Homo sapiens: one gene and its partner. The protein of the gene in region 2 purifies or fractionates together with the protein of the main gene of each other region. This does not show direct contact. Each region holds a gene or a part of one and is shown on either strand. Other genes may lie near its edges. The genes, in order: RNF207 and KCNH2.

Region 1 (5,953 bases), on a different chromosome or scaffold from region 2:
CTTCCAGGCTGAAGGTTTTTCTCAGATGTCAGGTCACCCTTGAGTATCTGCTCATATTAGGAGTGGGGCAGGGCTGGAGCCATGAGGCAGATCGGAAGCTCTGAGCACAAGGGTGGTACTTCCTTGGAGGAGATCAGGGTGGGTGGGCTCTTGCTTTTATGGAATGCCCCGAGGTCAGTTTTAGATCCCTTTCCAGTCCTTCCTGGGAAGCCTGTCTGTGGAGCATCTGTATGCACACTGGGTTTTCTGGTTTCAGTACATTTCTTGTCTGTGTGTGGTGACCTCTCAGAACCCCTCAGACTTCGGCTGCAGTGGGAGAGGACCAGTTGCTGAGTGGCAGGGATCTTGGCAGTCACCTGGAAGACTGGAAGGGGACATGAAGGGGGCTTCTGGGTGGGGACAACGTCCTGGGTGCTACCCACACAGACTTGTTCACACCATGAATGTATCAAGCCATACTCTACCTCTGCAGAAATAAATTGAGGCTGGAGCCTAGCTCCTGGAGGTTTCGGGCAAGGTGGGGCCGGCTCTGCTCCTCTTCAGAGCAGCCACTTTGTGGATGTCTGCAGTTGCTCCCTCAACCCACTTCACTCCAGGTCTGCGAGTCCACTCATCCACTGAGTCTGCTCTTGCTCCAGTCGCAGCGAGCCCTCCCGTAGGTCCAGGCCTCCTCCCTTGGCCTCTCAGCAGCACTCGTGAGCATCGCCATATTCATCTTTTTTTTTTTTTTTTGAGACCGAGTCTCGCTCTGTCGCCCAAACTGGAGTGCAGTGGCGTGATCTCGGCTCACTGCAACCTCCGCCTCCCGGGTTCAAGCGATTCTCCTGTCTCGCCCTCACGAGTAGCTGGGACTACAGGCGTGTGCCACCACACCCGGCTGATTTTTTTTTTTTTTTAATTTTTAGTAGAGACGGGGTTTCACCATGTTAGCCAGGATGGTCTCGATCTCCTGACCTCGTGATCCGCCAGCCTCGGCCTCCCAAAGTGCTGGGATTACAGGCGTGAGCCACTGCGCCGGGCTTTTTTTGTTCGTTTGTTTTAAAGACAGGGTCTTTCCCTGTTGTCCAGGCTGGAGTGCAGTGGCTCAATCACAGCTCACTGCAGCCGCGATCTCCCAGGCTCAATCAATCCTCCCACCTCAGCCTCCTGGGTAGCTGTGACTACAGGCATGTGCCACCATGCCCGGCTAATTTTTATAGTTTTGGTAGAGATGGGGTTGTGCTATGTTGCCAAAGATGGTCTCCAACTCCTGGGCTAAGTGATCCTCCCACCTCAGCCTTCCAAAATGCTGGGATTATAGACGTGACCGTGCCTAGCCATGTTAGTCTTCAGTACACCTTCTCTTTGCTGACAGCCCCGCGCTCCCATGCTCCTGCCAGCCTCTCCAGCCGTTCCTTCCTGGTCTCTGGCTGGCTCTGCCTCCTCAGCTCAGTGCCCAGATATGTTTTTCCCCAGGGCTCAGCCTTAGGCATTCTCCACAGCCTACGCTCACTCCTTGGGCGACCTCATTCAGTCCCTGGCTTTAAGACCCCATCATGACGCAGACCCCCAGCTCCCGCTCCAGCACAGTGCTTACCAGAGCTCCAGACTCATCTCCCACTGCCCCCTTCCTGGGCAGCCCTACCTGGATGTCTACAGGCACCGCGAGTTCAGCAGTGGCCAGAATGCTTGACGTCCTCCCGCAGACATGCTATTCCCATCTCCCCATCTCAGTGAATAGCACCACATTCACTCAGGTGAAAAGCCTGGGAGAAAGCCTGGATTCCTTTCACCCACTTCATTTCCAACCCACCCCCAAGTCCTGCTGGCTCTACTGTTCCTGCCTCAATCCACCCGCTTTGGTCTCTATTGCTCCCCTGAATCCAGATCATCATGGCCAACCCTCCTACCCCTCCAGCCGCCATGAAGCCAGGAGTCCTTTAGAAGTCTATGATTCCCATCACCGCGGGGCTGGACAGCTCTCTTGGGGACCTTCCCTGTGCACCTGTGACCGTGTCTGCCCCTCATAACACCCTAGTCACAATGCCCTTTCAGTTCCCCAAAAAAGCTAGACTGGTCCCACTTCTGGGCCTCTGCCTGGAGTATTCACAGACCCTCAGTCGGGCCCCAGCTTGGATGAGTGTCAGCAGAGGCCCTCCCCACTCCACCTGGATTAAAGCAGGTCTGCCTGGCGCCCTGCACCACACACCCTTCCCTCCCTCAGCGTGTCTGGCCCGACCAGCACGCAGCTTCCATGATGGCAGGGCCTGGCCTCTCCTGCACGCCATGCAGGCCTGGCCCTTGCCAACCACTGGACCTTAGTAAATATTTGAGGAGCAAAAGAATGAAACGCTAGGTGGGTGCATGAGTGGTGGCAGAGTCTGGTTCTGAGGTTTCTGAGCTTAAGGCCGTGCAGCAGCTGGCTCTGCTCCCTTGAGATTCTGGTGCCCACTCCCTTGCCAGGTTTCAGGCACCCGTGGATGAGCAGTCAGAGAGTCTACAGAACACGCACGACGACAGCAGGAACAACGCGGCCTCAGCCAGGTAAAGCAAGTCTCTCCACTGGAGAGTGTGCACGCGATGTGGCTTCTGAGGCCAACAGGACGACAAAGGAAACTCCAGGCTTTTCCCCTTTGGCGCCAGCTCTGGGGCCCTGGCTGGGCCTCTTTGTAAAACAAGGGGTCAGAGAGGCTCTCAGCCCAGATGAGTAACTTATAAGTGACCTCATAGATAAAACAGGTGTTCCTTTGATAGACAGAACCCCATTTTACCATTATAAACAGCCATGGCTGCTGCCTGCATCCACTTTCACCACTGGGAGCTGCACGTGCTTATGCTAGGGGACTCGGGTCACTGAAATGAGAAAGTGACCGAGGACTGTTCCCCAGAGCCAGCGCATGCGCCCCAGTACCTGCCAGAGGAAGACGGCTGTGCATTAACACCTACGACACAGTCACAGGCTGATCTTTGTGTATTTTGCTTTCAGGAAAACATAGTCACAGGGCAGAGGACAGCACTGTAGAATGAGAACCAGAAGAGCCTAGGGGTGTGCAGAGGGTTGCTGAAGTGGCCAGAGTCACAGCGCGGCTGGTGACAGAGCAGAGTCTGGCCCCAGCCTCCCCTGCACAGCCGCCATTTATTAGCTCAGATGCTTCCAAATTCAAAATGCAGTGTCACCAGAAACCGCTGACACAGGCTGATGGTTCAGCAACTCACAGCCATCCCCTGGGGATGGGCTCCTACTCAGAAGTAGACAAGGTCCTTTTGGAGACAGAGCCTTCCTGGTTCTCACTCACTGAGGCCTTCCAGGAAGACGTTCCATTCTGAGTGCTTTGGCCCAAGTGGATTTTAGTGCAGGGATATGGTGAAATGGGGGAGCGGGCTGGGCTTACATGAGGCTGTCCCTTTAGGAATAATCCAGGAAGTGTCCCGGAAAAGAGAGAGAAGACATCAGAGCCTAAAGGAAACAGCTGGGCTCCGAACGGCCTCTCAGAAGAGCCTCTACTGAAAAATATGGATCATCACAGATCCAAACAGAAAAATGGGGGCGATGTCCCCACATGGAGGGAACACCCGACTTAGCAAATGGGACCGGTCCCCAGGGTCAGGCTCTTAGAGCAGGCACAAGACTGGGACACTGGACAGAAGGTTGTTCCCATGATGGTTTTTTTTATTTTTTATTTTTGAGATGGAGTTTCGCTCTGTTGCCCAGGCTGGAGTGTAATGGTGCAATCTCGGCTCACTGCAACCTCTGCCTCCTGGGTTCAAGCGATTCTCCTGCCTCAGCCTCCCGAGTAGCTGGGATTACAGGCGCCTGACACCACGCCCCGCTAATTTTTTGTATTTTTAGTAGAGATGGGGTTTCACCATGTTGGCCAGGCTGGTCTCAAACGCCAGACCTCAGGTGATCCACCTGCCTCAGCCTCCCAAAGTGCTGAGATTACAGGGGTGAGTCACCGCGCCTGGCCAATGTTGTTGTTGTTTTTAAGACAGAATTTCACTCTTTGTTGCCCAGGCTGGAGTGCAATGGCGCAATCTCTGGCTCACCGCAACCTCCGCCTCCCAGGTTCAAGCGATTCTCCTACCTCAGCCCCCAGAGTAGCTGGGATTACAGGCATGTACCATCACACCCGGCTAATTTTTTGTATTTTAAGTAGAGAGGGGGTTTCTCCATGTTGGTCAGGCTGGCCTCGAACTCCCAACCTCAGGTGATCCGCCCACCTCGGCCTCCCAAAATGCTGGGATTACAGGGGTAAGCCACTGTGCCCGGCCGGTTATTTCTTTAAAAGGTAATCATTTGTCAAGAGTAAAACCCAGAAGCTCTGACAGGCCATAATTTCAGATCCTTTGGCTTGGGCAGTTTTGATTTTCCCCGTGTTTGCATGGCATGAAGTCTTCGTCCTTGTCACAGTAGCTTGGGATGACTCCCAGTCCACATGGAAAACATCAGGGAGTGACAATCCAGCAAGAAATCCCTCGCTAGTTCCACACCTACGCACCGAGCGTCGGTGTGCCAGGCCCTGTGCTGGGCAGAGTGTGGTATGTCAGGGTGTGCCGGTTTTAGGTAACAAGACTCCACCACTGAGTGGCACCTGCCCTATTGCAAAGGAATCCAGTTCCTCCGGAATAACAGTCCCACTGTTAACCTGGTGCTACTGGGAAGTTCCACACAGTAATCTGAGCAGTGACTCATGGAAGGATGAGGAACGTTTGCTCCAGCTTCTCTCCCTTTCCAGCAAGGGCAGAGCTCCTAAAGCCAGGGGTTAGCACCTGGCCAGCTTATGTGGCAGATGGTCTCAGTTACAACTTCGCTGCTTTCCCAAACTCCTGCAGCCCTCCTGAGTCCGACTTCCGTTGATAGCAAGGCACTGGGTGGCAGCAACCTTTTTTCTAGTAGTTTTTTCCCAGCAGTTTTCCATTTCTCCACAGTATCCTTTTCATTTAGAGGAGCTTAATAAATGCTTTTTAAAAAGTAACCCACGTGACGTAAAATTTTACAAGTTTTTGTGGCAAAATGATGCCCAGATAGTCACATTTAAGCAAATATTCAGCTTGATTCAGTGATTAACAGCAAATGGGTCTACGTGCTAACATGGCAGCACATTCAACACATAACACATCACTCACATTGACGTCCACTGTCCCTGCACCTGCTACTTCAGGGGCACTGAGGCTCCTGTTCCAAGGCCTTACAAACCTATGTGGTGGCCTGCAGGGCAAAAGGAATTATCATTACAACTGGTTAGAGGTAGGAATTCAGAAAGAAATTGAGGAGGCCAAACACACGTCGTTTGAGGCTAAAGGCTTAAGACGCTTCTTACCCAAGAGTGACCTCAGAGTTTCACATCCCAGACAATCACACTGTGGTTGAGTGAAATCAAGTGCAGTTTTATTTAAGAACTGGAAAGAATAATCAGTATCTGTGAAAGAAAATCCAATTTAGAATATTTAAATAAACATTTATGTAAAAAGAAGAGTAGAATAATTACTCCGTTCAGTTCCTCTCCTTGCAATGGGATAGGCTGCCTCTGCTGCAGATGGCTGGGTCTTCCAAACCCATGACAAGTGCCACGGCCTCTGCAGCAGTGGCCCAGAGAGTAGGCACTTCCCAGCATGACAGAGAGGCCGAGGCCTTCTAACCTTGCCAAACCACTACAAAAGCAAACTAGGGTGGGCAAGCCCAACTACCTAAGGCAGGAAGAAAGTGCAGTGAAGGGACAGTGGTGTGCTGTGCGTATCGTGGGGGTACTCCTAAGCAGCTAGCTGTTGGCGAGATCTTACAAAGCCTGATCGGCTAACGCAGCTTCCTGGTTTAGGAACATTTTCCCCGGTCGTATCAATCCCCCAGGTTGGTAAATGAACAGAAGGGATGAATAAAGCCTACTTTTTAGGCTCAAGGAGCAGCTCGTGAAGGGGTGGCAGGTGCGCTGCTGCCTTGTTTTCTGTCCTGCTAAGAGGCTCACCCCGCGACCTC
Region 2 (7,272 bases):
CCTCACCTGTTGAGCTGGCGCTGGAGGGCATCCAGCCTGCTCTCCACGTCGCCCCGGGGCCGCCGACCCGGGCTGGAGAGGGGGATGTTGAGGAGGCTGGGGGTGGGGGCGGGGCATCGAGGGAGCTCCTGGTACTGGCGGCCCCGACTGTCCCCCCAGAAGCTGAAAATGTTGGACACTCCTGAGAAGGCGCCTGCAGCCAGAGAGCAGAGCTGGGTGAGCGGGGTAGACGCACCACCGCTGCCACGCCCGGTCCTCCCTCGCCCGCCCGTCGCCCGGGATACCTGACAGGGGGTTGCAAGTGTCGCTGCTCTTCTCGCAGTCCTCCATCAGGGGCTCCCCACCCGGCGGCTCTCCGGGGGGCCTGGGGCTGGAGAAGGGCACCAGGCGGAGGGGGCTGGAGCTGCGGCCTGGGCCCTCATCCTCACTGCTCTCAGGGCTGGAGGGGCCACTGGACGGGCTCTCCCCCCACGGCCCCCCCGGCCGGCCCCGGCTACTCGGCCCTGCCCCCGCCCGGCCCGGCCCCAAGGCCGACACCTCCCCTGGCTGCTCCGTGTCTGTGGGAAACAGAGAATGGGCCTCAGAGAGGGGAGGAGAACAGAGAGGAGGGGGCGAGGGTGGAGGAGGGGACAGGAGCGAGCCCGAGAGAGGACTGGGCAGGAAGCCCTGGTTTGTCCCCAGTCGCTTCTTCTGCTATCTTGCACCCACTGTCAAGCCGACCAAGAACTCCCAGGACCCCCTGACTGCCCAAGCACTGGCAATGGTGCTTCAGGGGTTGGCGGATCTCTGGGACTGCGGGGCCTCAGCCCCATCGTTGGCTCCCTGGCCCTCCTTTGTTCTATGTTCTTTCCTCCTCAGTGCTCACAGAGACCCCAGCCCTGTGAAGTCCAAAAAGCCTAGGCTTGCCCTGGAGGGTGGAAGAGGGCTTCCTGGAGGAGGTGACAGCTGCAGGGGCCCTGAAAGATGGGCAGCATCTGGACAGCTGGGGTGTGGAGTGGGCACACTGGAGGAAGGGATGGGAAGGTCTGAGGCCTGGGTAAAGCAGACACGGCCCACCCCGCCTTCCAGCTCCCAGCCTCACCTTGTCCCCGCCCTCCCCCTTCCTCCCCTCCCCCGCCTCACCCTTGTCCGTGCGCCTGCGGAAGGACAACTTGCGCTTGCGTTGCCGACTGAAGCCACCCTCTAACTCCGTACTGCCGGGGGAGCCCGGGATCATGTTGGTCTGGAACCAAAATCAGTATCAGGGCCCTTTCAGTGCTCTCCTGCCCCACCGGGGTCAGGCCCCAAGCTCCCTCCTTAACACAGAAAAAGTAGGGCTGGGCGCCCCAGCTCTGGGAAAACCCTTCCCTGCCCCCAATGTGATTTTGCCCCAGGCAAAGACTGAGTTTGGGACTTTTGTAGGCTGCTCTATGATACCATTTGACAGACAGGGAAACTGAGACAGAGAAGCATCACATTCAATGTCACACAGCAAAGGGGCAGCCACACAGCTGGAAGCAGGAGGATGGGGTCCAGCTCAGGGCAGCCAACTCACATCTCGCAGGTTGAAGGTGATCTCCAGGCTGGACCAGAAGTGGTCGGAGAACTCAGGGTACATGTCCAGCACCTCCAGCAGGTCGTCCCGATGGATCTTGTGTAGGTCACAGTAGGTGAGGGCCCGCACATCCCCGTTCGACTTGCCAGGCCTTGCATACAGGTTCAGAGGCTCCCCAAAGATGTCATTCTTCCCTGGAGGCCATGGAGAGGACAGGGAGCTCAGCCCCGGGGGGCGGCATCCAGGCAGCAGGCACCTTCTCCCGGCATCCCCACCCCGGGCAGAGCATGTCCCCTCAGCTGGGTCGCCTGCCAGCCGGCCCCCAACCCACACAACCGGGGAAGCAATCTGCCAGCCCACCCTCCCTCAGCTCCCAGCAGGCACGACAGTGCCAGAGGGGCCAGGAGCCCAGGGTCTCCCAGCAAATGAGACCCAGCCAGCAGGACTACCCCAAACCCCAGGTCCCAAACACCCTCTTAGCCAATCACTGCACCCTTATAAGCAATGTTCTTCAAACCAAAGATCAGAACACAGTAGTGAATCAAAACCAGCATTTTTTTTTTTTTTTTTTTTTTTTTACTGAAAGAACATACAGTAGTATAGCTTAGCACAGCACAGAACAGAAATGCTAGAATGAACCACATGCAGTAAGGCCCAGTGTTATGTAGTGAAACTTTGATTTTAGTTTTGTGGGGGTGTGTATTTGTGTTTGTACAGAGCTGAGAAACAAAGTCTAAAATGTCCTACCATCAACTATGGTCGAAAGAGCTTGCTATATCTGCCCTGAGGCACACAGGGCCGAGGGAAGGACAGGCAAAGGGGGAGGAAGTCCTCAGTGTCCAGACACACCAACCCACCCACTGTGCACAGGCAGGGTAGAAAGGAAGTGGGGGGAGGGGGCAGGACTCCCTTTGCTTTGGATGTGTCAAGGGGCCAGGCATGAGGCTGCAGGGAACCACATGGCCCTTAGTGAAACCAAATGCCGAGCTTCCAGGCTAGCATTTCTTCCTCTACTGCCCAGGCTAGAGGATCTAGATTTGATCCTACTTTAAGGAAGCAAAAAGTGTCTGTTTGTGGCGGATCCTGAAGGGAAGGAGAATGTGGGAACCCCAGAGTTCAGCAGCCTCACCCCACGTGGGGCTCCTCTCCATGGCCCCGCTTGGAGGGCCTGAGTTTAGGTGAATTAAAGGAGCCCAGTGACCCTGCAGGCAGTCCCAGGTCCACAGCCCCAGTGACTGCATATTCAGAAGGCTCGCACCTCTTGAGGCTGCAGAGGGCATTTCCAGTCCAGTGCCCGCCCCCCACCCCATACCCAGGATGGCCACGACGACGTCGCCCCGCAGGATCTCGATGGAGCCCCGGGAGATGAAGTACAGGGCGGTGAGCAGGTCCCCAGCATGCACCAGTGTGTCCCCTGGCGGTGCATGTGTGGTCTTGAACTTCATGGCCAGGGCCCGAAGGCAGCCCTTGGTGGCCCCTCGGAAGGGTTTGCAGTGCTGCAGCAGTGAGCGGTTCAGGTGCAGGCAGATGTCAGCCTGCAGGCACTCAGGGAAGCCCTTCAGCACCTGGGGGCAGGGTGGGGGCAGCTCAGCACACCCTCCCTTGGGACCCCCCAACCCACACTCTACTCCACCATCCCACCCCTCCATGTCAGAGAAATCTCAACCTCCAGGCCTGGGAGATCTCGGAAGCATCAGGGGGCCCAGTGTCTTGGGAAGGACCTGGGACCCCACTCCAGCTTCACCATGCCTGGCCGAGCACCCTTGGGCTCTAGACCTCCATGTTCTTATTTGTAAGGCATAGAGACCATTCCCGCCCTGGGCTGTCACAAGGATTTAACCCCATCGCCTATGTGACATATACCTCCCACCCCAAAAGGGGAGCTCTCCAGGGAAGGGGTTCCAAGGGCTTCCATTTCCTCATGGGCAAAAAGGGGCAACGTGCCTCCAGGGTCCTTACTACTGACTGTGACCGCCTGAGACTTGTTTGCTGTGCCAAGAGGTTCCCCTCTGCCACCCCACTCTTCCCAGCCTGCCACCCACTGGCCACGCTCTGGTGGCCTCACCGCGTTCATGTCGATGCCGTTGGTGTAGGACCAGGCGTGCTGGAAGTACTCCTCGAGGCGCTGGCGCAGGGGATTGGGGATCTGGTGGAAGCGGATGAACTCCCGCACCCGCAGCATCTGTGTGTGGTAGCGGGCTGTGCCCGAGTACAGCCGCTGGATGATGGCCGACACGTTGCCGAAGATGCTAGCATACATGAGGGCTGGGGGCGTGGGCACGTGGGGCCGTCAGCCTCTGCAGGGACCCCACCCACCCACAGGGACCCTGCTCAGGCCCCGCACCAGGTCAGTGTCTCAGTCTCAGCGTCGACATGCCCACGAGACGCCCTTGTACATCTGCGCTCCAGCACACCCCACCCTTCAGTAGTCCCCGCCCTGGTGACCCAGCCCCCAAACCATGTCACGATGGTGGCCCCTGGAGTCTCTAAGTTCCAGGGCCTCACTCTGGCCCGGCTAGCAGCCTCAGTTTCCTCCAACTTGGGTTCCTCCACCGTGGGCTCTCCCCGCCGCCCGCCCCTGGGCACACTCACAGCCAATGAGCATGACGCAGATGGAGAAGATCTTCTCTGAGTTGGTGTTGGGAGAGACGTTGCCGAAGCCCACACTGGTGAGGCTGCTGAAGGTGAAGTAGAGCGCCGTCACATACTTGTCCTTGATGGAGGGGCCGCCCAGGCCGCTGCTGTTGTAGGGTTTGCCTATCTGGTCGCCCAGGTTGTGCAGCCAGCCGATGCGTGAGTCCATGTGTGGCTGCTCCATGTTGCCGATGGCGTACCAGATGCAGGCTAGCCAGTGCGCGATGAGCGCAAAGGTGCACATGAGCAAGAACAGCACGGCCGCGCCGTACTCTGAGTAGCGATCCAGCTTCCGCGCCACGCGCACCAGCCGCAGCAGCCGCGCAGTCTTCAGCAGCCCGATCAGCTGGGGGACAGGGAAGGGGCACATTCCGTTGATGGGGCAAGGGGGGCAAGGGAGGAGGGGAGGTGCTGCGGCCCTCAGAGCGAGCATCAGAGGTCAGATCCCCAAAGACTTCCTAGACCCTCCTCCTAAGAGGTGAAGCCCACACTGGGCCCAGCACAGGTGTCTCATTAATCTTAGTGCTAGCTTTGGGACAGAGGCAGCCCCCATAGTGTGGATGAGGAAACAGGGGCACTGACAGGTGCAGTGATCACCCTAGGGTGCCTGCCCACTCCCACCAGCTTCTAGGGCACTTTGGTGACGCTACAAAATAATGGCCCCTTGGGATGGACGAATTAGAAAAAAAGGTGTCCTGTGTGGCCCTCTGCAACCTGCGAGGAGCTTGTGTGGAGAGAAGGAGCATAGGTTTGCTGGGGTACCCACCTTGCCTCTGCAGCTGCCTTGCCACCATGTCTCTCTCCCACTGTCTTTCTCTCTTTCTCTCTCTCTCTCTTTTTCTCTGTCCTCCTCGCCACCCCCTCCACCCCACTACCTCCCACCACATTCCTGGCCTCTCCTCTCCCTACACCACCTGCCTCCTTGCTGACCCCACCTCCTCAGAGCCAGAGCCGAAGATGAGCAGGTCGAAGGGGATGGCGGCCACCATGTCGATGAGGAACCAGCCCTTGAAGTAGTGGACGGCGATGCGGCCGGGGTGGCTGACCACCTCCTCGTTGGCATTGACGTAGGTGGTGCGGAAGTTGATGAGGATGTCCACAATGAACATGATGTCCACGATGAGGTCCACCACAGCCAGCGGCTGGCAGGCGTAGCCACACTCGGTAGCAGGCGGGCCTTCTTCCGTCTCCTTCAGCAGGAAGGCAGCCGAGTAGGGTGTGAAGACAGCCGTGTAGATGACCAGCAGCAGGATGAGCCAGTCCCACACGGCCTTGAAGGGGCTGTAATGCAGGATGGTCCAGCGGTGGATGCGCGGTGCCTGCAGCTTGTACTCAGGCAGCACGTCGGCGCCCAGGGACAGGACCTGCACCCGGGGAAGGCGGAGGTGTGGGTGAGGCAGGCCATGGGACCTCGGGGGCAGGAGCGATGACATCTCTGCCGGGGCCAAGCAGAATGAGGAGGAGGCCAAAAAAAGCTTCCATCAGAATGCCCACCCCTCAGCCAAGCGACCACAGCAAATGGCCACCCCCAGGTTTGGGCATCATGGTTCCCAAAATGCCACACAGCACAGGACTGGCTCCAAACAGTTCCAACATTTCCCGGCAGACGTGGATTCAGGCCACTCGGCAGGAACACCCAGTGCTGCTCCCCGCCGGCAATGCAGATGCAGACCTGCCACTGTGACTGCCCTGAGACGCTGGCCCACACACCCAACCACACACGCCATAGTCTCAGACCGGAAAGGGTTCCAAGGACAACAGCTCCCAACCTGGGCAGTGGCCCCAGGAGCCATAGCCCCAATCCACTGACTGGTAGTCACTGCAGTTCTTACCAGCCCCTCTTCATGCCACAGGCCCGAGGACACCAGGCAACCAGGATGGAGAAAGACCAAGACACTCCCACCCTCCACTCGCACACCTCGCTCCCTCAGCCCCCTCTCCACACAGGTCCGGGACAGCCCACAGTCCTCATCCTCCCACCCTCTTACAAAGGGACAAAGAAGACATAGCCCAGCTGGGAGGAGATGGCACCCAACTTATACAGAGGGACGTGCACACAGGGACTGCTCAGCAGTGACACACACAGCCCCTGTACCAGCTCACACTCACACTCTGCCTCCTCCACAGTCATCAGACAGAGGCAGGCTGGCCATCCGGACCCGGTGACAGCAGGCACGTCCCTCTTGCTCCCAAGGCAAACTAAGAAGAGCTCCGGCCAGCTTCTCCACACTGTCCCAGAAGCTTCTGGGTCTCCCTAGAATCCTCTCTCAGGCATGCAGCTCAACCCAAAAGCCCCCTCCCCAAGCTCTCCCTGCCATCCCTGGGCAGCCAGCTGAACCCAAGGCCTTGCCCAGCCCCCATGAATTCCAGAGGTGCTGGCCCTGCTCCCAGAAGCACTGACTCCCAGGCCCCCACACCCTCAGGCTTTTGGGTTGGGGAGGCCATAGTTGATGAGTCCCAAAGACTCCCCTTCATACTCAAGCTGGGCTTGCCCAAGACACCTTCACAGATGGCGCTGCTGGGAGAACATCTCCTTAGAGGAAATAACTAGAAGTCAAGACGGGTCATAGTCAAAGATTTGACCACCCTGGGGTGGACACAGGGCCTCCAGCGGTACCAGATGGGCTGCGGGAGCAGCTGAGGCCTAGGGCAGGGAGGGAACACATGGACAGGCTCACAGGCTCCATTTCTGCTCTGTCTGCTGTCTAAGTGCCCAGCTCCTTAAGGCAGAGAGCAAATGCCCATGGGTGGGTGGCCCTTCAGTGATCAAGTGGGGACTGAAAAAAAAAAAAGAAAACACTGGCCAGGCCCCTGCTGATAAGGGGGCAGAAGAAGGTAGCTGCCCCTGGACAGGGCTCTTCTCTGTGCCTGAGAGGTCAAGCCTCTGGGCGGAGGTGTCAGGACCACCCCTAACAGCAGTGACCCTACCCCTGAGTCTGCACACAGCATGAGCAACACTGCCCCAGGGTACAAACTCACACGTGCATGGGGCACACCTGACAGGGGCCAGTCCCAGCTCTGCAGCCACCAGCTCACCTATGGCCTTGGGCCAGGTCTGTCCCCCCAGCCTGTTGTCCTATAGAATACTGAAGCTGGCTTGCTTA

What was found.
Region 1: the proteins of KCNH2 (region 2) and RNF207 purify together in Homo sapiens (affinity purification with western blotting; 2 studies listed by BioGRID). This does not show direct contact.

Annotation. Positions count from the first base shown.
Region 1 is NC_000001.11:6,215,847-6,221,799, forward strand, and holds the end of RNF207 (RING finger protein 207), read left to right. Parts: intron 1-2,442; coding exon 2,443-2,523; intron 2,524-3,389; coding exon 3,390-3,561; 3' UTR 3,562-5,453; downstream 5,454-5,953. UniProt on the Homo sapiens protein: Plays a role in cardiac repolarization possibly by stabilizing membrane expression of the potassium channel KCNH2/HERG, or by assisting its synthesis, folding or export from the endoplasmic reticulum, in a heat shock protein-dependent manner.
Region 2 is NC_000007.14:150,947,322-150,954,593, forward strand, and holds part of KCNH2 (voltage-gated inwardly rectifying potassium channel KCNH2), read right to left. Parts: intron 5,533-7,272; coding exon 5,104-5,532; intron 4,515-5,103; coding exon 4,127-4,514; intron 3,800-4,126; coding exon 3,600-3,799; intron 3,100-3,599; coding exon 2,847-3,099; coding exon of another isoform or gene 2,578-2,846; exon of another isoform or gene 2,088-2,577; intron 1,729-2,087; coding exon 1,535-1,728; intron 1,223-1,534; coding exon 1,123-1,222; intron 558-1,122; coding exon 285-557; intron 194-284; coding exon 7-193; intron 1-6.